Regions from separate parts of the Homo sapiens genome. Here all the other regions are linked to region 5. Evidence: fine-mapped expression QTL. A gene starts in region 5. Each other region holds a variant in brackets. All regions are shown on one strand. Distances are between the middles of the regions.

What was found. PIP is the estimated chance that this variant, and not a neighbour inherited with it, causes the effect.
Region 1: its variant is fine-mapped to the expression of KIAA0930 in whole blood (INTERVAL, PIP above 0.99).
Region 2: its variant is fine-mapped to the expression of KIAA0930 in whole blood (TOPMed, PIP 0.91).
Region 3: its variant is fine-mapped to the expression of KIAA0930 in whole blood (TOPMed, PIP above 0.99). The same link has a PIP of 0.9 or more in blood mononuclear cells.
Region 4: its variant is fine-mapped to the expression of KIAA0930 in monocytes (Fairfax 2014, PIP 0.95). The same link has a PIP of 0.9 or more in B cells.

What each region holds. Positions count from the first base shown.
Region 1 is chr22:45,275,899-45,280,999 of GRCh38, reverse strand. It overlaps the pseudogene RPS10P31. Among named protein-coding and RNA genes, the nearest start is that of UPK3A, 6.5 kb to the left of the region's middle. The variant C/T (reference allele first, on the strand shown) is at 2,376.
Region 2 is chr22:45,260,012-45,265,112 of GRCh38, reverse strand. No RefSeq gene overlaps it. Among named protein-coding and RNA genes, the nearest start is that of KIAA0930, 22 kb to the right of the region's middle. RefSeq lists enhancers at 1,254-1,443, 868-1,703, 1,714-1,763. The variant A/G (reference allele first, on the strand shown) is at 2,696.
Region 3 is chr22:45,210,271-45,215,371 of GRCh38, reverse strand. It overlaps KIAA0930, which reads left to right. Exons shown (of 10, transcript NM_001009880.2): 2 at 3,265-3,416. Among named protein-coding and RNA genes, the nearest start is that of MIR1249, 12 kb to the right of the region's middle. RefSeq lists enhancers at 2,651-3,200, 3,201-3,750, 3,882-4,382. The variant G/A (reference allele first, on the strand shown) is at 1,919.
Region 4 is chr22:45,189,892-45,194,974 of GRCh38, reverse strand. It overlaps KIAA0930, which reads left to right. Exons shown (of 10, transcript NM_001009880.2): 10 at 1-2,731. It overlaps LOC105373064 (a long non-coding RNA gene), which reads left to right and starts at 3,363. Exons shown (of 4, transcript NR_146602.1): 1 at 3,363-3,951; 2 at 4,430-4,473; 3 at 4,775-5,058. RefSeq lists an enhancer at 3,606-4,106. The variant T/C (reference allele first, on the strand shown) is at 2,608.
Region 5 is chr22:45,238,475-45,243,575 of GRCh38, reverse strand. KIAA0930 reads left to right here and starts at 2,682. Exons shown (of 10, transcript NM_001009880.2): 1 at 2,682-2,936. The coding sequence starts at 2,873. RefSeq lists silencers at 2,359-2,558, 2,589-2,648, 2,809-2,868, 3,019-3,108.

The DNA of each region.
Region 1 (5,101 bases), 37 kb before region 5:
GTATGAGTATTTACTGTAGTGTTCTTGAAATGTTTCTGTAGGTTTGACATTTTTCAAAGTGAAAATGTTGGGGGACAGAGTCTGTTCTCTGCCACAGAAATGCACTGTTCCCCTCTTTGGGTGTCGGTTTACCTTCTAGAAAGTGGGGAGGGAGTTTGGTCACCTCTCAGCCCTGACATGCAGAGAGCGGATGATCAGATCCTTATCTTCAGCACACAGAAAATGTCCCAGAGGTAAGGAACTCTTGAACAGGGCTGCGGTTTTCTTCCAAGAATTTTTATAGACTGACATTTCTTGTTCAACAATTGTTTGTGAACCTGGTTGTGAACCTGCAGTTTATCAGAGGCCAGCAGGGTTGATTTTCTTTTTTTTGAGATGGAGTCTTGCTCTCTCACCCAGGCTGGAGTCCAGTGGGGCGATCTCGGCTCACTGCACGCTTCGCCTCCCAGGTTCAAGCCATTCTCCTGCCTCAGCCTCCCAAGTAGCTGGGACTATAGGTGTGCACCACCACATCTGGCTAATTTTTGTATTTTTAGTAGAGACAGGGTTTCACCATGTTGTCCAGGCTGGTCTTGAACTTCTAACCTCAAGATCCACCAGCCTCAGCCTCCCAAAGTGCAAGGATTACAGGTGTGAGCCACCGTGCCTGGCCTCAGCAGGGTTGATCTTAAAGGCCCAGCTCAGAATCACCTGTGAGAGGAAGTAGGCCCAGGAAATTGTTTTCTCCAAAACGCTGCAGTTTCTTTAAAAAAAAAACAAAAACCCCAAAAAGTCCTCTTGTCTCTTGCCTTGCCCAAATATGGGGAGAACATTTGAAGGAAAATGTTAAAACAATAATCTGCAAAGGCCCAAAACATGTTCTGGAAAGAAAAAAATCTTAGATTTATAAACAAATGTCCACTTCAAAGATTGCTGACTTTTGTTTGGCTCATTCTGAAGAGGGGGAAGTACAGGAGAAATGAGTCATGGTGGGAAATTCACTTGGGAGAGACCATTGCTTGTGTCAGTGGAGGGGAAACAGGAGAAAAAGGGGGCCTGACACCTGCCAGTGTCCCTTGCTGCTCCACGTGCACTTTCCTAAGTTTATTTGTTTTTTTCTTTTTTTTTTTTTTTTGAGACAAGATCTCTCTGCGTCACCCAGGCTGGAGTGCACTGGCATGATCCCTGGTCACTGCAGCCTCGACCTCGCTGAGCTCAAGCTATCCTCCCACCCCAGCCTTTCTAGTAGCTGGGATTACAGGCAGGGGCGACCACACCCAGCTAATTTTTGTATTTTTATAGAGGTGGGATTTCACCATGTTTCCCAGACTAGTCTAAAACTCCCAGGCTCAACTGATCCTCCTGCATCGGCCTCCAAAGTGCTAGGATTACAGGCATGAGCCACTGTGCCCAGCCCAAAGTTAAAAAAAAATTTTTTTTAATGTTTCCTTTTTGATCAGGCCACTTCTAGAGCACTCAGATTCAGTCTGACTTGAGGTCATTTATACATCTAGATCCATCAGACCGTCCTTCTGAACCCTGGCCTGGAGGATGTGTTTGTCTGAGGCCAGAGAGGCAGGAAGTTTTGCGATGTGAAAGGTTAAGCAAAGCCCAGCCCTTCACAGACCTCCTTTGAATCTGAAGCATGGGGAATTTATGGGCTGGAAATTCTTGACCCAGAAATGTCTCTCCAAACACTGAAGAGCCCGGGTCCAGTCGGTTTCCATGACTCCTCTCTTCAGAAGTCAGAGAAGTTGCAGGAATCCCACCACAGCAAGTGCTGGCTTTCATTGTGGGGGCTCTGTCCCAGGACTCTGGAAGTCAAGCTTTTCAGTGCTTTCAGATTCAGCTACTTTATTTATTTATTTAGAGATGGAGCCTTGCTCTGTTGCCCAGGCTGAAGTACAGTGGGGCAATCTCAACTCACTGCAACCTCCGTCTTTCGGGTTCAAGCGATTCTTCTGCCTCAGCCCCCCATGTAGCTGGGATTACAGGTGCGTGCCACCACACCCAGCTGATTTTTGTATTTTTTTTAGTAGAGATGGGGTTTCACCATGTTGGCCAGACTGGTCTTGAACTCCTGACCTCAGGTGATCCACCTGCCTCAGCCTCCCAAAGTGCTGGGATTACAGGTGTGAGCCATTGTGCCCGACCAGAGATTCAGTCACTTTAAAACGAGAAACAAAAACCCCAGTGGAGAAACCCAAGTCCCTGCCTGGTGCTCACTCGTCTATCCTCACTCTGTGATGAGGACGCCCACTTTGCTCTAAGGGGCCCCCACCTGTCTCCCAAGCTCCAGACCCACATTTCCAGCTGCCCGTCCTGCAGAACATGCCCTCCTTGGTGACTCCAAGGGGCCGCGCATGACAGGACTCTCTGAAGAGCCGTGTTCAGCC[C/T]TGGCTGTGATTCTCATTGTGGTGGTCCTTACCCTTGGTTTCTTTTTCAGGAAGATGGGGATGCTCAAGGGGTCCTCTTGCAGAGGGGTGGGATGAAGTGCAGTCGTGGGTGTGAATGTGCCCTGTGACTGCGGTGGTGGGCAGTGGCAGGGTCCCCCACATTCCCCAGGTGTCACCACAGCCCTGGGCTCTGTTGGACTAGTCCTGTCTCCTCTGGGCCATCTCTTTCCTTTCAGGCCCCTCTCACGTAGAATCCAAACTTACTCAACAGGTGTTTGTTGAGTGCCTACTGCGTGCTGGGCACACGGATCTTCCCAGTGACTCTGGAACCCACCTCTTCCATTCTGATGCTGCCACCGCTGCCTGGCACGGTGCATTAGTGTTCCAGGGTTGATATAATGAGTAAGGCAGACCGGGTGGCTTACACAGAAATTCACGTTCTCACAGTTCCAGAGACTGGAAGTCCAAGATCAAGGTGCTGGCTAATCAAGATCAAGGGTTCTTCCTGAGCCCACTCTTCCTGGCTTGCAGATGGCAGTCTTCTCCCTGTGTCCTCACATGGGCTTTCCTCTGTGTGTGTGTGTCCTAATCTCCGTTTTTTGTTTGTTTATTTGTTTTTTTAAGAGACAAGGTCTCTTTCTGTTGCCCAGGCTGGAGTCCAGTGGCACGATCATAGCTCACTGCAGCCTCCCGCTCCTGGGCTCAAGCGATCCTCCTGTCTCAGCCTCCCAGATAGCTTGGATCACAGGCATGTGCCACCACACGTGGCTTATTTTTTTTTAATTTATTTTTGAGACAGAGTCTCACTCTGTCACCAGGCTGGAGTGCACTGAAACCTCTGCCTCCCGGGTTCAAGCAATTCTCTGCCTCAGCCTCCCGAGTACCTGGGATTACAGGTGCCTGCCACCATGCCCAGCTAATTTTTGTATTTTTTTTTTTTTTAGTAGAGACAGGGTTTCACCACTTGGCCAGGCTGGTCTTGAACTCCTGACCTCATGGTCCACCCGCCCTGACCTCCCAAAGTGCTGTGATTACAGGTGTGAGCCACTGCGCCTGCCGCCACCTGGCTTATTTTTAAATTTTTGTAGAGACAAGAGCTCACTTTGTTGCCCAGGCTGGTCTTGAACTTCTGACCTCAAGCAATCCTCCCACCTCAGCCTCCCAAAGTGCTGGGATTACAGGTGTGAGCTACCACGCCCAGCCCACTAACCTCCTCTTGTTATTTATTTATTTATTTATTTTGTTTGCTTGTTTGAGATGGAGTCTGGCTCAGTCGTCCAGGCTAGAGTGCAATGGTGCGATCTCGGCTTACTCCAAACCTCTGCCTCCTGGGTTCAAGTAATTATCCTGCCTCAGCCTCCTGAGTAGCTGGGATTATAGGTGTGTGCCACCATGCCCGGCTAATTTTTTTTTATTTTTAGTAGAGACGGGGTTTCTCCATGTTGGCCAGGCTGGTCTCAAACTCCTGACCTCAGGTGATCCGCCCGCCTCAGCCTCTCAAACTGCTGGGATTACAGGTGTGAGCCACCGCGCCCAGCCTTAACCTCCTCTTGTTATAAGAATACCAGTCATATTGGATTAGGCCCACCCTAATGACCTCATGTTAGCTTAATTACCCTTTTAAAGACCTGTCTCCAAATACAGGCACTTACTGAGGTACTAAAGCTTAGGACTTTGACAGATGAGTTCTGGGGGGTGTGGTTGAGCCCTCACACATGTAATTGGCCCCCTCCACACTTTCATGCCTGGACTAATAACATAATAACAATTGACCCCACGTGTCAGGGACTGTGCTAGGGGTTTTACACATTTCAACTTATCTGTCACATCTGGTCTGGCAGGCAGGTACTGTTATTACCTCCATTACCTTCAGATGAAGTGAGGCTCAAGGCAGTTGAATAACTGCCCGCTAAAACGCGAGCTCTAACCGCGGCACCCGCACAGTGCCTGACCCTGCCGAGATGGACAGGTAGACAGACCCAGCGTCCTCCAGGTAAGACACAGGGAGTAGGGAGGTGGGTTTTAAACCCAGGCCATGGGACCCTGGTGTCCACACCCTGTCTTCTACGGAGACTGGCCTCCTACTGGGTCTCCCTGTTCATGCATCACTCCTCTGATGCGTCCCCACCCAGAAGCCAGGGTAACATTTCTTTTTTAAAAAAGTTTCTCTGGGTCGGGCGCCGTGACTCACGCCTGTAATCCCAACATTTTGAGAGGGCGAGAAGGGCGGATCACCTGAGGTCAGAACTTCAAGACCAGCTTGACCAACATGGTGAAACCCCATCTCTACTAAAAATACAAAAAAAATTAGACGGGCATGGTGGCAGGCGCCTGTAATCCCAGCTACTTGGGAGGCTGAGGCAGGAGAATCACTTGAACTCGGGAGGTGGGGAGGTTGCAGTGAGCTGGGATCACATTGCTGCCCTCCAGCCTGGGCAACAGAGTGAGACTCTGTCTCAATAAAAAAAATAAAAAATAAATAAAATAAAAAGTTTTTCTGGCTATAAGTTTATTCAATGCAAAATAATCCTCTCCAGTTTTACTGACATGGCTGACCATGTCCACGATCAAATCTGCCTCTAAACTTGGTTGCTGACCCAGCCCCAGCCTCGGCTTTCTGGTCTGCACCAGGAGGCACAGTGCCCCATCTGTTGGTCTCTGTCAGCTTCCCCTCTTGTGAGTCTTGTAGGTCGACTGCCCTCCAGACCTAGCCGAGGCCTGCCAGT
Region 2 (5,101 bases), 22 kb before region 5:
CCCAGTCTGGAGTGTAGTGGTGTGATCTTGGCTCACTGCAAGCTCTACCTCCTGGGTTCAAGCCATTCTCCTGCCTCAGCCTCCTGAGTAGCTGGGATTACAGGTGAGTGCCACCACACCCGGCTAATTTTTGTATGTTTAGTAGAGATGGGGTTTCACCATGTTGGTTAGGCTAGTCTCAAACTCCTGACCTTGTGATCCACCCACCTCAGCCTCCCAAAGTGTTGGGATTACAGGTGTGAGCCACTGCACCCAGCCCCAAATTAATTTTAGTATGTAGTATGAAGTAAGTGTGGAAGTTCATTTTTTTATATATATATGGACGTCCAGTTGATCCAACACTTTTTGTGGAAACACTTTCCTTTCCCCACCGAGTTGCTTCATCACTTTGGTCAAAAATCAGTTAATTTGGTCAGGCACTGTGGCTCACGCCTGTAATCCCAGCACTTTGGGAGGCCAAGGCAGGTGGATCACTTGAGGTCAGGAGTTCAAGACCAGCTTGGCCAACATGGTGAAACCCTGTCTCTACTAAAATTACAAAAATGAGCCAGGTATGGTGTGTGCCTGTAGTCCCAGCTACTCGGGAGGCTGAGGCAGGGGAATCACTTGAACCCAAGAGGTTGCAGTGAGCCGAGATTGCACCATTGGACTCCAGCCTCGGCAAGAGAGCAAGAGACTCTCTCAAAAACAAACAAACAAACAAATTCAGTTAACTACATATGTGTGGGTCCGTTTTGTAATATACTGTGTGAACCAAAGAAAAACCCATTCATGGGCTGCCTGGTCTGGGCCCCGACTATTTTCTAACATTGACCTCCAGCACTCAGACCTCCTTGCTGGCCCCTGGCTAGGCACCTGCTGCCTCAGGCCTCAGCTCCAGCTCTGTCCTGGTCTAGAACTGTCTGCCCTGAGATCATCTCCTGTCAATGCCTCCTCCTCTGAGAGGGAGGCCCCTGCCATGGTGTTGCTCTGGTGATTTGGTTCCAGGAGAGCTTGATGAGATCAGCAGGCGCCGGATTGTACAGGGACTTGCAGGCGGAGACAAGAATTGAGGTTTTATTCTGTGTGAGATGAGAACAGGAATGGCATGATCTGACTTTGGCTTTGGAAACGTGGCCTGGGCTGCTGTGTCGAGGTGGACTGTAGGGGGAGTGCGGAGGCAGGGGTGGCCGCAGGAGGCTCCGGAAGCACGTGGCTCCTGCCGGCCACTCGCTCTGCCTGTAGTCTGTCATCAGAGCAATCCTTGGCCCTGAGAGCAGATGCTGCAATGAGAAGGAAGGTCAGCCCTGGCCAGCCTTGCTCTGGGATCCCAGGGCATGGGATTCAGGAAAAATAGGGGCTTCCCTCCTCCATGTTCACCATGCCACCCCGCCCTCGGTTCCCACACCCTCGTGGGGTGGCTCCAGGCTACTGTCCTGGCCCTTGACCTATTCACTGCCCTCAAGGCTTGGGCTGCATTTGTGGAGCAGAAGAAGGAGCCGGGGTGGAAGCCCTGAGGTTAAGTTCCAGTTCCTCTTCTTACCAGCTGGGTGACCTCCAGCGAGTCACTGGAGCCTGCAGAATCTCATTTGAGAAGTTGGATAAGATCTCTGCCCCCACCGCCCAGGCCCCAGGGGAGCTGTGCAGACTGACTCTCTTCTGAAGAGTCCCTTGGAAATGTTTTGGCGGTGGCAAGAGAAAGAGCTTTGCTTGTTCTTCAGAAAGACTTGCCGGAGTCAGACACTGAGGACTCCAGAGCATCTGGAGGAAGCCCAAGGGCCACCTCCCCTGAGAAGCCTTCCTTCGCCAGCCTGAATAAAATGGACCTCTATACACACACCTGTCTCAGTGGTGGCAGTGGCAGGCCATCTGGAGCGGCTGCTGCTGTCACACCAGCTGCAGCAGGGAGGCACGGCTGGGGCTGCATGTTCCATGGAACTGGCAGGAGCTGGGGACAGGCAGGAGCCTCTCCCATTCTGAGTCGGGGTGGCAGCTCCCTGCATGCCGCTGCAGCTGCCCAAGCCACGGCTGTGGACCCAGGCATCCCTGTGCTCTCGGAGCCTGGGAGCAGGTGGGAACCCCACCCTCCCAGGTGCAGCTGCAGCCGCCCAAACCACAGCTGCAGACCGGGGCCTCCCGCTCCACGGAGCAGGCTGGAGTCCTGCCCCACATCCCACATAGCTGCACCGGCCCTAACTGCCACTGCGGACCCAGGCATCTCTGCACTCTTGGGGGCCCTGGAAGGCCCCCCTGCCCTCACAGGCTTGGAAATGCCTGCTCCCACTGCCTGGCTTCTCCTTGCTGTCGGCACCTGCTCTGATCTTGGGGCAAAATTGGGGCCGAGCCTGGGTTTTGTCACAGCCCAGCCAGGTGTGCACACACTCAGGGCAGTGCTGACATGCCAGCCCCCTGCCGTCTCAGCCCTCTCCAGATTTTGGGCACTGATGAGCATAGGAATGAAGCTGAGGAGGAACTGAGGGCAGCTTGGCAGTGGCCTGCAGACGCCCCTTGGTACCTATAGCCTGGGCGCCATGAATGGCAGCAGGAGGCAGACAGGTTTCTGGGCAGAAGGGGGTGAGTCCCTGGTGAGGCCCACCTTCAGGCCAGGGAGGCCCTGAAGGCTGGGGGCCAGGCTGTCAGTGCCGTGGACTGGAGTGCGAACTTGTGTTGCCTTTTCTGGGCCTGCCCATGGCCGCCCATGGACCAGTCAGCATGA[A/G]CTTCCCCCTCTCTGAGGCTGACAGAAGCCCCAGGCTCAGCCAGAGCTGAGCAGACGTCGGATGACCAGCTGTAGTGAGGAACTGCCCTCTCCAGGGCCTCCTCTGAGCTATTGTCACTCAATAAAGCTCCTCTTCGTCTTGCTCACCCTCTTGTTTCCGTACCTCATTCTTCCTGAGTGGAGGACAAGAACTTGGGACCCACTGAATAAGGCTAAAAGAGCTATAACACAAACAGTGCTGAGACATGCCCCTTGCTGGCCACGTTGCAGGGGAAGAGAAGGAAGGAAGAGCTGCAGCCCTTTGGGGAGCCCAGACCGGGGAGTCTCCCAAGCCAGGGCTGTGATGCCCTCTTTGGGTCCCTGTGGTTTCTGGCATCTCCAAGCTTCTGAGAGCCACTGTGTTCCCCAGTGCCAGCTGTGGAAGCTGCTTGCAGTGCGCCTGGTCCAGCTGTAGCCTCGCAGAGAGCTGGGGCCCATGCTGGCACCCGGAGCTGCCTGCCCCACTGCAGCAGCCGGCGTGTCTGACTGTGCAGTGGCCGGACCTCACGCGTGCTTACACACCCGTCACCACCCCACGCAGTCTCCCTTGGTAGACGTGGGATCCAGGCCGATAGTGTGAGCCGAGTGCAGTCTGCCAGGACAAGTGGGCGGAATGAGCCCAGTGGGCCCAAGCAAAACTCAGACAAAGATGCCACTGGCCACAGAGGTTTCTGCCCAGAAAAGCGACACCCCAAAGATTCCATAACATCGGCACCTGACCCCGCTTACATCTGTACACGCACCTGCCTCTGCACCTGGCTGCTCTGACGTCTGTACACACACCTGTCCCTTCCTTGTTTCTTCAATCATAGGGCAGCCTGCCAAGCCATGAACCACTGATATCTCAGGCTGTGGGGAGCACTTGGTGTCCCCAGAACCCAGCCATCAAGGGCCTACCCTGAGGAGGCAGGCAACGATGAAAGAGGGGAGAATGAATGAATGATGTCTCTGTGTGCTGAGTCTTAAGGAAAACGGACCATGAAAACCATTCCTGTATTGAAAGTGCTAGAGGCTTCCAGGCAGGACCGCAAGGAATGTGTGCACAGCCCCATGGGGAAGCACGGCCCCCATGACCCCCACTTTGCTGAGAAGGGACCTGAGACTCACAGAGGCTGAGCCGCTTCACCCAGCGAGGGGCTGGTGGAGCTGGGATTCTAGCCCCGAGTGTGGCTCTCCCCACTTCCTCGTGGCTCTCAGTATCCAGGAGGAATGAGGGGCCCCCTTCTCCTACTGATGAGGAAACTGAGGCCCAGGGTATGTGGGGACCTGCCTATCGCTGAGCATGCCAGGAGACAAGTCGGGCCTGCAGCCCACATCCTTGTTCTGAAGCCTCCCCCAACCCCTTTCTTTTTTTTTTTTTTTTTTGAGACAAAGTCTCACTCTGTCACCCAGGCTGGAGTGCCGTGGCGCGATCTTGGCTCACTGCAACCTCTGCCTCCTGGGTTCAAGCGATTCTCCTGCCTCAGCCTCCCAAGTGCTGGGATTACAGGTGCCTGCCACCACACCCGGCTAACTTTTGTATTTTTAGGAGAGACAGGGTTTCACTATGTTGGCCAGGCTGGTCTTGAACTCCTGACCTCAGGTGATCCGCCCACTTCGGCCTCCCAAAGTGCTGGAATTACAGGCGTGAGCCACCGCACCCAGCCCCAAGGCCCCTCTTCCTGTAGCCCTCACTTCCCCTGGTGTTCCCCCCACCTTTGCCCTTCCTGCCTCTATCCTAGACCTGGTGGTTCCCGTGCAGCTTCAGTCAGCACCTATAAGGGAGAACGAGCACATTCTTGCTGCTTCTTTTTGTTTTGTTTTGTTTTTTGAGACAGGGTCTCACTCTGTTGCCCAGGCTGGAGTGCAATGGCGTGATCACGGCTCACTGCAGCCTCAACCTCCCAGGCTTGAGCAATCCTCCCAGCTCAGCTTCCCGAGTAGCTGGAACCACAGGCACGTGCCACCATGCCTGGCTAATTTTTGTATTTTTTTTGTGGAGACGGGGGTCTTTCCATGTTGCCCAGGCTGGTCTTGAACTCCTGGGCTCAAGTGATTCACCTGCCTTGGCCTCCCAAAGTGCTGGGATTATAGGCGTAAGCCACCTTGCTCGGCTACATTCTTGCTTCTTAAAGAGACAGTGCTCTCTGTCGCTCCTGTCCTGTCCTTTCTGTCTATGGCCCACAGCAGCCAGGAAAGCCAGGTGTCCTAGAGGGAACTCTGGGCAGTGACCTCAGGGATCCCCATAGTTACTGTCCCCCCGATGCCCACCAGGGCAGCAGTTCTCCCACAGCTGGCCCTGTCCCCCTGGGGGCCATGCTGTTCTATCATTGTCTTCCCTCTTGCCAGCAGCGACTTGCAAAGCCCTCAGACGGTGGTACAGTGACA
Region 3 (5,101 bases), 28 kb after region 5:
TAGCATATCGGAGAGTTCCAGTTCAATGCACCCTTGCCAGCATTAGCTACAACTTAACAATTTTATTGGCATATGGTTTATGTAAAATAAACTGCATATATGTAGACTAAACAGTTTGATAAGTTTTTATGTTTTTTAAATTAATTAATTTTTTGAGACAGGGTCTCGCTCTGTCTCCCAGGCCGGAGTGCAGTGGCACAATCTCGACTCACTGCAGCCTCTGCCTCCCGGGTTCAAGTGATTCTAGTGCCTCAGCCTCCCGAGTAGCTGGGACTACAGGTGAGCACCACCACACCCACCTAAGTTTTGTATTTTTAATAGACATGGGGTTTCACCATGTTGCTCAGGCTGGTCTTGAACTCCTGACCTCCAGTGATCTGCCGGCCACAGCCTCCTAAAGTGCTGGAATTACAGGTGTGAGCCACTGCACCTGGCCTAAATTTTATTTTTTAATACCCTTTTAGAGACAGGGTCTCACTTTGTCCCCCAGGCAGGAGTGCAGTGGTTCGATCATAGCTGACTGCAGCCTCGAACTCCTGGGCTCAAGTGATCCTCCCACCTCAGCCTCCCTGGTAGCTGGGACCATAGCCACATGCCATCATGCCCAGCTAATTTTTATTTTTTTTTTAGAGACCAGGTCTCACTGTGTTGCCCAGGCTGACCTTGAACTCCTGGCCTAAAGCAGTCTTTCCGCCTTGGCCTCCCAAAGTGCTGGGATTACAGGTATGAGCTACCTCACCCGGCTAAGTTTGATGAGTTTTGATGGTTATACGCACCTGTGAAACCAGCGTCACAATCAAGATCTAGAACCTTTCAGGGCAACCACCCTCCTGCTTTAAGTCACTACGATTCCGCCTTTTCCGAAACATCGTGTGAATGTGATCATACAGTAAATAGCTTTTTGCGCCTGACTTCTTTTGCTCTGCAGGACAAGTTTGAGGTTTATCCACAGTGTAGTGTGGATCACTAGTTTGTTTTTATTGTGACATGTGTGCATTCTCCTGGTTTCCAGTTTGTGGCCGTTACGAATAAAGATGCTGTGAACATTTGTGTACCAGTCTCTGTGGACATGTGCTTCATTTCTCTTGGGCAGGTACCTAGGAGTGGCTAGTGGCTGGTTTTGTAAGTATATGTATAACTCTGTGAGAATCTGGCAGTTTTCTTAAGGGCTGTTTTGTTTGTTTGTTTGTTTGTTGAGACAGAGTCTCGTTCTGTTGCCCAGGCTGGAGTGCAGTGGCACGATCTTGGTTCACTGCAACCTCTGCCTCCCGGGCTCAAGTGATTCTCCTGCCTTAGCCTCTAGAGTAGCTGGGACTACAGGCGCCTGCCACCATGCCTGGCTTATTTATTTATTTATTTCCGAGATGGAGTCTTGCTCTGTCACCCAGGCTGGAGTGCAATGGTGCGATCTCGGCTCACTGCAACCTCTTGCCTCCCAGGTTCAAGTGATCTTCCCACCTCAGCCTCTCGAGTAGCTGGGATTACAGGCACCCGCCACCATGCCTGGCTAATTTTTGTGTTTTTACTAGATACAGGGTTTCACCATATTGGCCAGGCTGGTCTTGAACTCCTGACCTCAGGTGATCCACCCACCCCAGCCTCCCAAAGTACTGGGATGACAGGCATGAGCCACCACACCCAGCCAAGGGCTGGTTTTTAAAGACCAAATTTATTCTGTTATTCCGTTGGGCTCTAAGAGGGAACCAAAAGTGAAGCAATGTAAAGAGGAAGTAAAAAAGAATTGAAGTTTATCCAGGAATAATCACAGCGCTTTGCTTAATTTTGCAAGGGTCTGTAGTAGCGTGACTTGGGCTTTGCCTGTTGCAAAAACGCGGCAGGAATTTCAAAGCGACTCTGCAGACAGCACGCGTGTTTCGTTCCCCCGGGTCCTGTGAGCCTGGGAGGTCTTGCCAGTCCC[G/A]TGGGCTCTCCTGGCCCTCACCCCTGGAGGCTGACAAGGCTCGCTGACCCAGACCCTCACCGATGAAGCCTCCTTCTCTTTTCCTCCCTCTCACTGCCCTAGAGCCCAGGAGCCAGGCAGGGCATGGGAGTGGGTGAGCAACACACTGTTGGGCAGAGGGCTGAGGGCAGAGGGCAGAGGGCTGAGGGCTGAGGGCCGAGGGCTGGGGCTGGCTGTGAGTCCTGGTTCTTTGGTTAGTGTTGTGGCTGACGTCAACCAAGGCTGGGGTGTTCTGCATTTGACTCAGCTAGTGGCCGAGTCCTGGTCAGCCCACTGGCCTGCCTGTGAGCGCGAGAGAGGGTTCTGGCACCACTGGCCCTCACGTTCCCCATCTCTAAGTGTCGGGATTAGTGCCTTCCAGCCCGAGTACCAGCACTAGATTGCACTGGTCAGTGAGGAAGACAGAAAACAAAAGCAGACCCGGTTTAATCTACTGAGTTGATAAGAGAGAGCTTGGCTGCATATTTTGAAGTGTTGAATCTGTCTAGAGAGGGGACAGACCCACCTATGTTGATCCTGCTGTGTGCCCGTGGTCTCGGTTTGTCTGCATGTGCCCCGAGGAACCTGTGGCTCAGAGCCCCCGCCCATTGTCCCATCACCAGCGGCAGCGCTGGAATGGAAACCCAGATCTTCCCTACCAAAGCCTGTGGGCTTTTTCTCTTTTGCAGGAAAATATTACAAATATTTATCATAAAGAAATACCATTTGTAATAGAAGGAGAAGTCCCTGTGAGGATCAGATGAGCACGAAGCTGCGCAGACGTGGGGCAGGGGTGGGGCGGGTGCTGTCTCCCTGCGGTTCCCGCTTGCAGCCTTGGCTGGCTGGAGGGCGGCTGTCCCTTTAAGTCGGGTTCCCGCTGGGACTGCCGCAGCCAGGGGGAGTGGGTGGGGGTGAGAGATGTTGGTGAGAGCCCTGCCTCTCCAAAGGCTCCCCCCCAGCCAAGCCTTCCCGGCTTCCAGCCCAGACACCAGCCAGCCAGTGGCGTTCCTGGCTCCTCGGGATTTTCCTTTTCCTCCGAAGCTGCTGATTCATCCCCAGGCTGGAGTCAGGCTCAGCTGTGGGGCTGGGAGCATGGGCTCTCAGGCTGCTGCTGAGTGGAGGAACTGGGCCTCCTGGGAGGTGTCCTCCAGCCTCTCTGGATGCTCCATGGGTGGGGGTCGGGAGTGGTGAGGGAAGGGTGGCGCATCTCAGAGCCCTCGCAAATTTCTGGCCAGAAATGTGGGGGTATGGGCGCAGCTTGGCCAAGGCCATGCTGCAAGGGCCAGGGTGGCCGTCCTTCCTCACTCCTGTCTGGCCTCCCTCTGCAGGGTGCTTCAAGGATGACCGCATCGTCTTCTGGACTTGGATGTTCTCCACCTACTTCATGGAGAAATGGGCTCCCCGGCAGGACGACATGCTTTTCTATGTGCGCCGGAAGCTGGCGTACTCCGGCAGCGAAAGCGGTGCAGACGGGAGGAAGGTGAGTGACCCCCGGCCCCTGCCCCTGCGTCTGTGCCCCAAGCATCCCTGTGGTGTCTGCTCTCGGTGTACATGTGGGCTTTCCTACAGTGCTCATGCATATCAAAGAGGGTGAGTGATATTTATTGAGCACCTACTGTATTCCAGGAACTGTGTAGACAGTCTCATGTGCAAATCTGGATGTGCTGGGTGTCTGTACACATTGTCATTCATCTTCACTGTGACCCTGAAGGGCAGTGATTGCCGTCACCGTCGTAGCTTTGAGGAAACAGATCAGAGACAGCTAACTCGGCTGGCCTCTTATAATTAGTCAGTAGATGGTAGAGCAAAGGTCGGACTCCAGAGCCCAGGGCCCTCCCTTGGCCATGGCAGGGTGACCTGACTCAGTGGTGGTGATGATGACGGTGCCTTCCACTTACTGAGCCCTCGCCATCATCTAGACACAGTGCTGAGCTCTCTTCTTCTTAGCCTCCTTGTGAAGTCCCAACAACTCGACAGGGTGGGTGTTCTTACCCCTTTTACAGATGAGGAAACGGAGGGCTCGGAGATGAAGTGATTCGCCTAACGTATTTCATCCACTAAATCGCAGTGTGGGAGGAGCTAATAAAATACATTTTGCATGCTTCCTTCTCTGTTTTTCACAAGCTTTTGCTGTTCGTAAAATGTTTAATCAACTCCATATGCCAGACATGGAAACGCTTTTGTTTTCCTTCAAAAACAAGAAATGAGAGGGCCGTGTAGCTAGGTCTGGAACTTGCAGCCTGCCTGGCTCTGTAACTCCGGGGCCATGGTTTGCTGGCAGAGGCTCATGCAGGGATTACTTGGAGCCTGGTCTTGCCTTGGGCCCATTTTCTGAGCCTGAACACACGCGGGATGGATTTTCTGCAAGTGGAAGGGCCTGGGTGCCTGCATGCTGGCCCCGAGCCCTGAGCTAGCCCCACTTTGGAGGGACCAGCAGGAGACCATGAACAACTGGCCAGAGAGGTGGGGGAAGAGCCAGGAGAGGGGAGGGCACCCCAAGAGGGGAGGTCTGGAGACGTGGGTGCAGCCAGTGGGGTGCAGTGTCTGAAGGGCCCATTGGATTCGGTACCAGGGAGGGGTGGCGGCCTTGGCGCAGCAGTTTCAGTGGCGGGTGTGCAGGGACTAGAGCCACACTCGGGCAGGCAGGGTGTGCAGGGACTAGAGCCACACTCGGGCAGGCAGGGAATGCTTTCTGGGAGGGATGAAGAGGAGGCCTGACTGGTGATGGGATCCCCGAGTAAGAACCTTCTGGAGCTGGCTCAGGGCTCCTCAGAACCTGCTGCCACGCCCGCCCTGTCTGGGTGTACAATCGAGAGACCAGCTTTCAAGGCCAGTCTTGTTTTTCCCTGGTTTACCATATGACACTGCCAGGTCATCTCCTCTCTGGGGTAAAAGGGGATCAGGGCAGGTGCCCCGAAAGGTGAGGGCCCTCCCATTCTGGACACCTGGGAGGCTGGGATGTTTGGGGTTAGTGTGACCATATGAGTGCCCTTGGCAGGGGGGTGGATGGTGCCTCAGGATCCTCACTGCCCGTGACCCTCATGGCGGGCACAGGCTCCTCTCACCTCTGCACAGTTCTGGGGGAGGGACTCCTCTCACCCATGGGAACCGGAACTCGGAGGCTCAGGCCCTCTGTCGTCCCAGGGCTGTGGACCCCACCCCTGC
Region 4 (5,083 bases), 49 kb after region 5:
ACAGCGCCTACCATGTGCAGCTGCCTGTCCGACCCCATCTTACAGACGAGAAAACCAGCACACAGGCACCAAGGAACTGTCCGGAACTAACAGCAGGGGCCGGCGATGGGAGTCAAACCCAGGCACGCGGCCTGGCCTGCATGCTGAGCCACATGGTGCTGTCCGGACAGATGGACAGACACTCGGTGGAGTCTGCCTTTCTCAGGCCCTAAATCCCTCTCCAAAGGGTACTTGCGATGCCGGATTTAAAACTTGCTCAGAGCCACTTAGCCACTTGAGAACCAGACAGTAAGGTGTTACTCCCAGGTTTGTTTTTCCAAAGTAACAGATGACATGTGGAATAAAGTAATAGAGTAACAAGTGGCAGGGCCAGAACCAGGGTCCCCAAAGTCCTGGTGTTGGCACATTTGTACTTCTTGTAAGACCATCTTTAATTTTTCTGGGAACACACCTGCCTTTTGTGTAATGCGGGGAAGACTAATGCATGGTGACACCTAGTTTTCCTCAACAGGACACTTGATCCCAAAACCCCTTTAAGACCTTAGGTTTCCTCAGCGGAAAACTGTACTTTAATCCCAAACCCCCTTTAAGACATATTGGGGCTGGGCGCAGTGGCTCACGCCTGTAATCCCAGCACTTTGGGAGGCTGAGATGGGTGGATCACCTGAGATCAGGAGTTCAAGACCAGCCTGACTAACATGCTGAAACCCCATGTCTACTAAAGATAGAAAAATTAGCTGGACATGGTGGCAGGCACCTGTAATCCCAGCTACTCGGAAGGCTGAGGAAGGAGAATCACTTGAACCTAGTAGGCAGAGGTTGCAGTGAGCCGAGATCACGCCATTGCATTCTAGCCTGGGCAACGAGAGCGAAACTCTGTCTCAAAAAAAAAAAAAAAAAAAAAAAAAAAAAAAAAAAAAAAGATACATTGGTCTTTAAACCCAAACCCCCTTTAAGGCATGTTGGTCTCAAGGGGATTTGGGATTGAAGCACAGCTTTCTGTTGAGGAAACCTAGGTGTCACTTTTTAGAACATTAAAAAGAAAGTTGTAGGGTGGGCTTTTCCATTTAAAGGAATGTGATGATCCTAGGTTCTGATGAGTGATAGGTGGTCTCCGTTTATACCCTTTCTTCTTTTGGCACCTGTAAGTTCCGGTAGTGGCCATCTTACATTCTCATGTCCTGCTGGAAGTGCCTAGTTGCCTGCAAAGCCAGCTAAGGCTTATTATTTCAAAAGAAGATTATTTAAAACATGAGTGACAGGTAGTCAGAAGAGAACAAAAGGACGCAAGATACTCTATAGCCAAGTCAGCTTGGAGGCAGGATGGGTTGCTGAGTGAAGTCGCCGCTCACTTTTGGATTCTTATGGACTGTGAGTTAGTCTTCCCTCTACACGGAGTCACAGGAAGGGTATAAATGCATGTTCCTGAGGTGCCCTCCCCCAAAGAATGTACCTGCACTCAAACCAGGATCTGTTTTTGCTGTTTTAATCATAAATAGACTAGTTAGTAGAAGACTTTTGAAGAACAAAGTAAAACTTTTTTTTTTCATTAAAAGATGTCCCAGAGGAAAGGCCCTGTGCAGCCAGTATATTCTAATGACTGCCTGGACCATGTCCTAATATGGTGGTTTTAAGTTGTTGGCCAAAATCCTTTAAAGACATACGAAACATCTGCCAACTTTTTAGCGAACTTAACAGGTTTCACTGACGTTTTCCTCAATTTTTGAATTTAGGTGGGATTTGCTTTCATGTCCTGTTTCAAAAACCAAGTGTCTCTTGACAGCCCACTGGTTCTTCCTGTCCTCTTGCTCTAGTCTGTATCAGAAAGCAGAATGACTGTACTTTTGTTTTACAAACAACCACCTGATAGGACGGACACTCCACGAGATAAGGAAAGGCACGTGCCCTTGAGCTTGAATGGAAGCAGCCTCTGGAGGGGGCAGCCACTGCCCTTCGAGGGAGAGCAGCTCTTCAGCAGTGGCCAGAGTGCCACGTGACTCTGCAGATGACCCCTGGGAGCCGGGTGATGGGCACCTGCTGGGGCTTTTGTTTTTTCTTTTTCACTGGCTGGCTTGATCCTCAGTGGCAAAAGGACCCCTGAGCCCCTTCTCCGAGCCCTGGAGCACTCCTCGGGACACCGAGTGGCCTCAGGGCTGGGTTCAGAGCTCCTCCCGCAGGGGGAGCCTCAGAAGTGGAGGCAGCTGCTGATGGGTGAGTTTACAACTTCTTATCCTGCCTAAGGCGAGTAGGCGTTTTTATTCCGTTTCCAGTCCTTGAGCTCAGCAGATCAAAATAACAGTGACCCTGCAACCCCACAGAGCCCGCGACACGCTCGCTTTCTTCCCCGCCCTGCCCCTTTAGTCCCCGCTCTGGAAGGCCAGGCAGTTTAGGTGTAAATAGGTATCTTTTATGGTTTCCAAATGAATTATTTGTGTGAGAGTAATTAAATCTGTAAGAAAACCTGTTGAGATTCTTCACTATGAATTATGACTTCTACAACATGTATTTTAGCAAAAACACGATGCTGGCCTCCACTGGATAGCTCAGTATGCTGATTGCCAGTGATAGTTCTGTACGCGTTACCAACAGCGTCTTTATTAACCCTCT[T/C]CCACATCCAGTGGAAATCATTGCTAGGCGGTATTTGTTGGTTGGCTGTTAGCTTTGCTTTATGATTTCATGTTTCTTTTAAAGGTTGTTTTGCATGTTGAATATTAAATTTTTTTTTTCTGTGTCTTCCTCTAATCTTTTTCTGTAATGGGAATTTCAGGGTAAATACAGATATTATAGCAAAGCAATAATTTAATGATTGAAACTTAATTTGCCCCCAGTGATTCCTGAAACTTTTTTTGGAGCTTTCACACAAACTACTTTTTTGAACTAGAGTGTGTTGGAGGCAGAGAAAAATCACCCTGTGTGCTGGCTTTGCCTGCCGTGAGCCAGTGAGGAGTCCGAGAAGAGGTGGGCAGGTCAGTGATGGGTTTGGCCAGAGATGCCATATTTGCAGTATTAAATCATTTCAAGATGCATTTCAAGGCCTGGCACGGCTCACGCCTGTAATCCCAGTGCTTTGGGAGGCCGAGGCGGGCAGATCACTTGAGGTCAGGAGTTCGAGACCAGCCTGGCCAACATATGGTGAAACCCCCATCTCTACTAAAAATACAAAAATTAACCGGGCGTGGTGATGTGCACCTGTAGTCTCAGCTACTTGGGAGGCTGAGGCAGGAGAATCGCTTCAACCCAGGAGGCAGAGGTTGCAGTGAGCCAAGCTCATACTACTGCGCTCCAGCCTGGGTGACAGAGACTCCATCTCAAAAAAAAAAAAAAAAAAAAAAAAAAATGCATTTCAAGTTAAGCTTTTAGCCTCCACAAAGTAGTGCACACCCTTTCAGTTGTACTATAAAATTTCCCAGGCTTTTTCAGAGAACCTCTTAACCCTCACAGAAATGGAAAAAATGGAATAGAGGCCAGGAGCCCCAAGTTCAGGTTTTGCAGGCTCCAGGTAAGCTGGCTGATCTAACGGAAGATGAGGTGTTTGCAGCAGGCGTCTGTCTTGCAGCTCAGCAGGTGAGGGGACCTCGAGCAGGCTCTCGCATTTTCCGGCTGATCCTTCCGAGTCTGCTACTGCAGGGCCCTCGTAGGTGGGAGCAGCCTCATCGTCGCCTTTCACACTGTGAGCTTTTCCTTTCCACGGTCAGATGGACTTAGTGAGTTACCAGCGATGGATGTTAAGACCTAAGACACCGCAGAAAGTTACAGAGTGGAAAATGAGGGGCAGAGAAAAGAGGGTCTGAGAGGAACGCAAGCATTCCGGAATACAGTAAGGGACATCCCATCAATGACACTTCTTGGGAACAGCCACTGCCTTAGAAACACCAGACCAAGAGAATTTTCTGACCACAACCCCAAAGGCAGCCCATGAAGATGGAGGTTAGGAAGGAGGCGGTCTAGCAGGTGAAGACTTCCTTGCCATCCAGGTCAACCCCCTTCTTGTTGAACAGTGGGAAGTCCTTTTAAAGCAGTCACCTGAAAAATGTTTAATAGAAATTTGGGGAGAGTCTCTATCTTGGAAGCTGCCTGCGGGAACCTCATTCCTATTCATTGCCTCCTCTTGGAAGGCTAATCTGCTATTTCGGTTCCTTTAGCCTTAGATGAGCTTTTAGGAAGTACTGTCATGCCCTAGCTTAGAAGGAAAAAAGGTAACTGGAAAGGAAAACCTTTGGGAATCTTACACTGGGAGGAGAGGGGAATGTAACTCAATCCATATAATAACACAGTTCATTGTAAATAGACATGTTGACTGTGGTAACATGCTGTACTTTGTGCCTGATTGTTAAAATGCTAAGAACAGCTGGAAAATTTACATGAGGAAGAGAAAATACTTGTTTCTGGGGATAAAGAAAGGATCATGTTGTCTTTTCTTTCCTTACAGTGTCACTGAATTGCCCCTGACTTAGCCTCTCCATCAGCCAACAGGTTAGAGAGTTCTTTCCTCTGTGTGGACTGGGGTCTTTCCTCTTGGAATCTGATTTTAATGAAACAATTAGGTTGCTCATTTTGAAATAACCATGGCTTTTAGCCAAATTTTATGCTACTCTGAATAAACAATTTTGCTTAAAAGATTTTAGCCACTTCCAGAAGCCAGTGCAGTTGAGTAATTTAGTGGGCACGTATATCTCACTTAACGTGGCACGCTGGGGAGAGGTGTGTGGGGCTGGGACCTCAAGCTGCACCACCTCAGACACACTTAACCCTGGGCCTGGGTTTTCTCAAGTAGAATCACCACTTTCCTTCCTGGGACGCGACGATGTTGAAGTGAGACAAGGTTACGTCCAAAGGCTGGCATAGTTGCTGGCAACGCTGATCACTACTGCCATTTCTTCCCGGCGTGTGCAAGGGGTATTTCACGGGCCATCTTTGGAGTCATCGGGAGTGCATGTGCCAGCGGTTCCCAAATGTGAGCATGCCTCAGGATCACCTAATGCACGCTCTAACCCAACGTTCAAACCCAGAAGACCGGTGAGGAAAATACTTTGGATCAGTGATGACGGCTGCACCACTGTGAGTATACTAAAAGCCACTGAAT
Region 5 (5,101 bases):
GTAGCCCCAGAAGTCCTGCTCCTGCCCTCTTCCCATGCACAGTGTGATTTAGCATTTGTTGACATTAGAAAATTCTGTGTATATGTGAGGTCAGGAGTTCGAGACCAGCCTGACCAACATGGAGAAACCCCATCTCCATGAAATTAGCCGGGCGTGGTGGCACATGCCTGTAATCCCAGCTACTTGGGAGGCTGAGGCAAGAGAATTGCTTGAACCTGGGAGGTGGAGGTTGCGGTGAGGCGAGATCGCGACATTGTACTCCAGCCTGGGCAACAAGAGCAAAACTCCGCCTCAAAAAAAAAAAAAAAAAAAAAGAAAGAAAGAAAATTCTGTGTATAGGTAATACCTGGAGTATTATTGAAATACAAAGGAGAGAGCCCAAGCGATGTTTGTTTACTCATTCATTCAACAGATATTTTTCTGGCACCAGTCCTGGGCTGGGTGCCACGGGAAGTGGGATGAATTGGTTCAATGCTGGTCATATGACACAGAATACACGGAGGCAACTGTGTGCAGGAGGGTGGGGTGGGGAAAGGGGGTTTGTGAAGCAAATAAGAACACAATGCATTGGCCAAGCGTAACCAGGCAATGTGGGTCCCAAAGGCAACTACAGTTGCGGAGCAGAAAGGATTTCAGGCCAAGGGAACACTGTGGGCAAACGCATGGCAGTGGGAACAGGCAGGGGGTGCTGTGGGGTTTGGGGAGGCAAAGAGGGATGTGACTATTGGACTTGACAGCCTTGGAGCACTCGCTCATGCTGTCTGATCCACCATCCCCAGTTCTCACGTCCACCAGCCCAAACCCCAGCTCTCCAGACGCAGAACCAGAGGCCTCAGCCCTCATGCCAGTGTCCTCACTTTACAGACAGGGATGCAGGCCCACTGGAGAAGAGAAATACACGTGAGGCTGGTCGCGCACTTCCTTCATTCCCTCACTGCTCACCTTTCTACAGAGCCCTCCTGGGCCTGGCACTGGGGACACAGAGGGGTCAGATGTGGCTCTGCTCTGAAGAGTTCAGGGGCCAGTGGCACAAAACTGGGGCAGAGGCCTGAAGCAGGATCCAGATCCCATCTCCCTTCTGGGGCTCTGCCCAACCCCACGGCTCCTTCCTGCTGTGCCTCCCAGGAAGACCCCTGCGTCCCCATCAGACCTCTCCATCATTCTTCGTTTATGCAGCCTACATTTTTTTTTCTTTTCTTTTCTTTTTTTTTGGGGGGGGACAGGGTCTTGCTCTGTCTCCCAGCTTGGAGTGCAGTGGCGGGATCTCGGCTCACTGCAGCCTCCGCCTCCCAGGTTCAAGCAATTCTCCTGCCTCAGCCTCCAGAGTAGCTGGGATTACAAATGTGTGCTACCATGCCCGGCTAATTTTTGTATTTTTAGTAGAGATGGGGTTTCACCATTTTAGCCAGGCTGTTCTGGAACTCCTAACCTCAGGCAATCCACCTACCTCGGCCTCCCAAAGTGTTGGGATTACAGGCATGAGCCACTGTGCCCAGCCTGCAGCCCATATCTATTTATTGGGCATCTAATGTGTGCCAGGCAATGTTCTGGGTACTGAGACAACAGCTGTGTAGTAGACAGGCCCCTCCCTCGGTAGAGAAGAGAACAAGTGAACCCATAGGTATCCAATGTGTCGGGAGGAGGTAAGTGTCACCCTGTGAAGGAGAAACAGACTAAGGGAAGAGAGAGGGAGGGAAGGCGGTCAGGGGAGTTTCTTTGAGGATGTGACACTCGGGACACAAAGGAAGCAAGTTACACAGGAATGGGGAGAAGAGGACTCCAGACAGGGGAAAGGGGGACCTTGATGGGTCTGGGGTCCACACACAGGCTGTGAATGCAGGGAGTGATGTAGATTTAGCTTTGGAGAGACCTGGAAATCAATGCTGGTCTCTCCATCTCCCCCTGTTCTTGGAAATGGACCACCAGGCGTGAGGTTTGGGGAGGCCACTGGCTGCTTCTCCGGTGTCTTCCTGTATCAGCCACAACTAGCACACGGAGGGATGCTGGCCAGACCTGGCTTCATCAGGATGACACGCCCAGCTAACCTCATACCTCCCCCTTCATCAACACTCCCCCATGTTGGGGAGGCAAGGCAGGGAAAGGTCCCCCATGGTGCAGCTGAGGAAATGGAGGCGCAACACTCTGCACTGTGCCAGGTGCAGAGGAGGGGGGCCGGAAGGGCTTTGCCACGGTGTCCCCCAGGAGACCACCTTCTGGGAGCAGGTGACCTCTTGAGGGGTTCTGCGGAGGAAGTTCCCAGAAGTCAGCCGAGGGGACTTGGTGGAGGTGGCAACGCACAGGGCGGGTGACAAAGTACACATCCCGTGGGGTAGCAGCGGGGGAGGGGAGAGGTGCCCTGAAGGGGCGGCGGGAGGGGCTCAGAGGCGTGATCCCGTTGGTGGGGCGTTTAGGACCTTGGGTGGAGGCGGGACCCCGCGAGCGGTTTGAGGGAGGCTGTCCTGGGCATCCGAAGATTGGCGGAGACTGGCCGTTTGGAAGTGGGCGGGGCAAGGGAGGTCAGGGGGCGGGGCCAGGGAGCCGGGGTGGGTCCGGGCCGTTCAGAGGCGGGGCGGGAGGGGACAGGGGCGGGGCCGGGGCGGGGAAGGGGCGGGGCCGGACCGGGGCCGGGCCGGGCCGGGGCGGGGCGAGCGGAGCCGGGGGCGCGCGGGCGGCGGCGGCGCGGAGGTGCGCTCGCCGGTGCTGTGTTTGGCGGGTGGTGGCGGCGGCGGCGGCGACGGCGACGCGCACAGAGGCGGACTGTGGCTTCCTTGGTGCTCGCGGCGGGCTGCGGGCCGGGCCGCCCGCCCTCCCCGCCGCCGCCGCCCCCGAGCCTGCGGGCGGCGCCGAGGCCGAGGAGCGCTCGCTGCAGCACATGCTGCGTGCCATAGCGGAGGAGCGCGGCCGTCTTAGCCTGCGCCGCGAGGTCTGCGGCCTCGGTGAGTGGGACCCGGGGGCGAGGCCGGGCCGGGAGAGGTGAGCGTCTCCGGGGCCGCCTCTGCGCGTCCGTGTTTCTGTGCGCCCCGCGCATCTCTGTCTCTGCGCGGGTGTCGTGGTCTCTGGGTCTGCCTGGGTACCCTGTCTTCCTCCATGGCCCCCCCCCCACCGTCCCTGCATCTGGGTCTGTCTCTGCTTTCCGTCCGACGAGCGCCCCGCACCCCTGTGCCCGGGTCTCATTCGGCGTCTCCCCCTGTCAGTCCGTCCGGGTGTCTGTCTCATCTTCCTCCTTCTTCTTCGTGTCTCTGCGGGTCTTCTTCCTTCTCCAGGAAGCCCGCCCCGGGCCCTCAGCACCGCGGTAGGGAGTGTGGGCGTGGGATCTGGGTACACCCTTAGCCCAGCGCGGCAGGGTCGGGCCCTCGTTGGGCTCTGGGTGGACCTCGCTGCGAGCGTGCCCTGGCCACTGTCTCCTGCTACCCGAAGCCTTTGTCTTTCCGCACCCACCGGCCCCTCTCATCCCTTAGCTGTATCCAGGGACCTGTTGGGCAATGGCCCCCCGAACCCGCCCGCTTGGCTGAGGGGCAGGGCCTGCTGCCTCTCGGTGTGATTCTGGGCTTTAAGTCATGGATCTGCTGGGGGGCGTGGGATGGGGGTGCCTCGTATTGTTTGGAAGGGCCTGGGACTGCAGGTGTGGGTGGGGTCTCCCAGCCAGTGAGGTAATCCATTACTGATGGATCATGCCCAGACTGAAGCCCAGGAGAAGCCCCCTCTTTTGTCGTCTCAGGTTCGTCATTTTCTCCATGGAAAAGACCCCTCCCTCCTCCGTGCAGGGAATGACTTCATACCACATTGTCAGCCACCCCCCACCCCACCCCCAGGCTAGGCTGGGGATTTCTGAGGGGGTGACAGCATTGCTGAGTACGGAATGTCAGCCTTCCAGATTCACCCCTTCATTCACCGTTGGGGAAACTGAGTCCCAGAGAACAAGTGCATCCCCCTAAGGTCACACAGCTGCAGGGACATGGCAGTCCCAGGCATTCAGGGCCCCTCAGCAGGCCACACCCTGGAGGCTGGAGTGGAGAGAGGAAGTAAATTTGAATCCCTTTTGTAGGAGGCAGGCTTAGCATGGGAGGCTTCCCAGTGAGCAGGCCCCAGCCTAGCCTGCCCAGGCGAGCCTTTCCTCATGCAGGGGTGGGGTGGGGGGTGCTTATGAAGTGAAATGGACAAGAACTTCAATGGTTGACAAGGTTTCAATGGTTTCTTTCTGAAAAGGTGTCAAGATTTACTTTTGAGCAGAAGTTGGAGCGTGCTTATTCATTCATTCTGCAAACATTCATTGAGCACCTACTGTGTGCCACCGTGGCAGGCCCACCTGTCAGCTGGCACCGAATATCTGAGCTGGGATGCATCTGAAGGACCATCTGCTGCAGGTCACTTGGCCCTGTTTGCTCAGCAGCTTCAAGCAGTCCCTCCCCACTCCCCTGTCCACACACACCTATTGTCCTCTGACCACCTTTACCTGTGAGCACCTTCTCTCCTCTTCTAGGCAGCCCCTCCCGCAAGGAGGCTGCAGGGCCATTCCCAGAAGAACAGTGAACAGTGAAAATGGCACCTAGCATTTACTGAGCACTTACTATGTGCCGGGTGCTTTACTCATGCTGCAAATTTAATCCTGACACAATGCTGACTTTGCCAGGGAGCAGTATTATCTCCATATCAGCGATGAAGAGCCTGAGGGTGAGAGAGAGAGAGAGAGAGAGAGAGAGCCTGCCCAGGGACAACCAATGAGGAAGCAGCATAGCAGCATAGCCGGGACTGACCCTCTGCCAGCCTGACCTCAGAGCCTGCCCTCCACTCCCTGAATATCCCCAGCCAGGTCTTTATGTGCCTACGATACTCACGCTGTTTCCTTGTCTCTTCTCCAGGCCTCCCGCACGTGCCAGGTCTCCCCTCTTCCCCTGCTGCTGAACTCAGTCCCTGCAGGGCTCTGAAGCAGAGAAAACCTGCTGTTTTCTCTGCCCGGAAAGCCGCCCCTACTCATGTGCCCCACAAGCATCTCTAAGTTTTCCTTTAAGTCTCAGCTCCAGTGTTGCCTCTCCGGGAACTCTTTCCAGCTCCCAGGCACACAGTCCTGTTCTGCCTGTGTTCTCTTTGTGCCAGGCACATG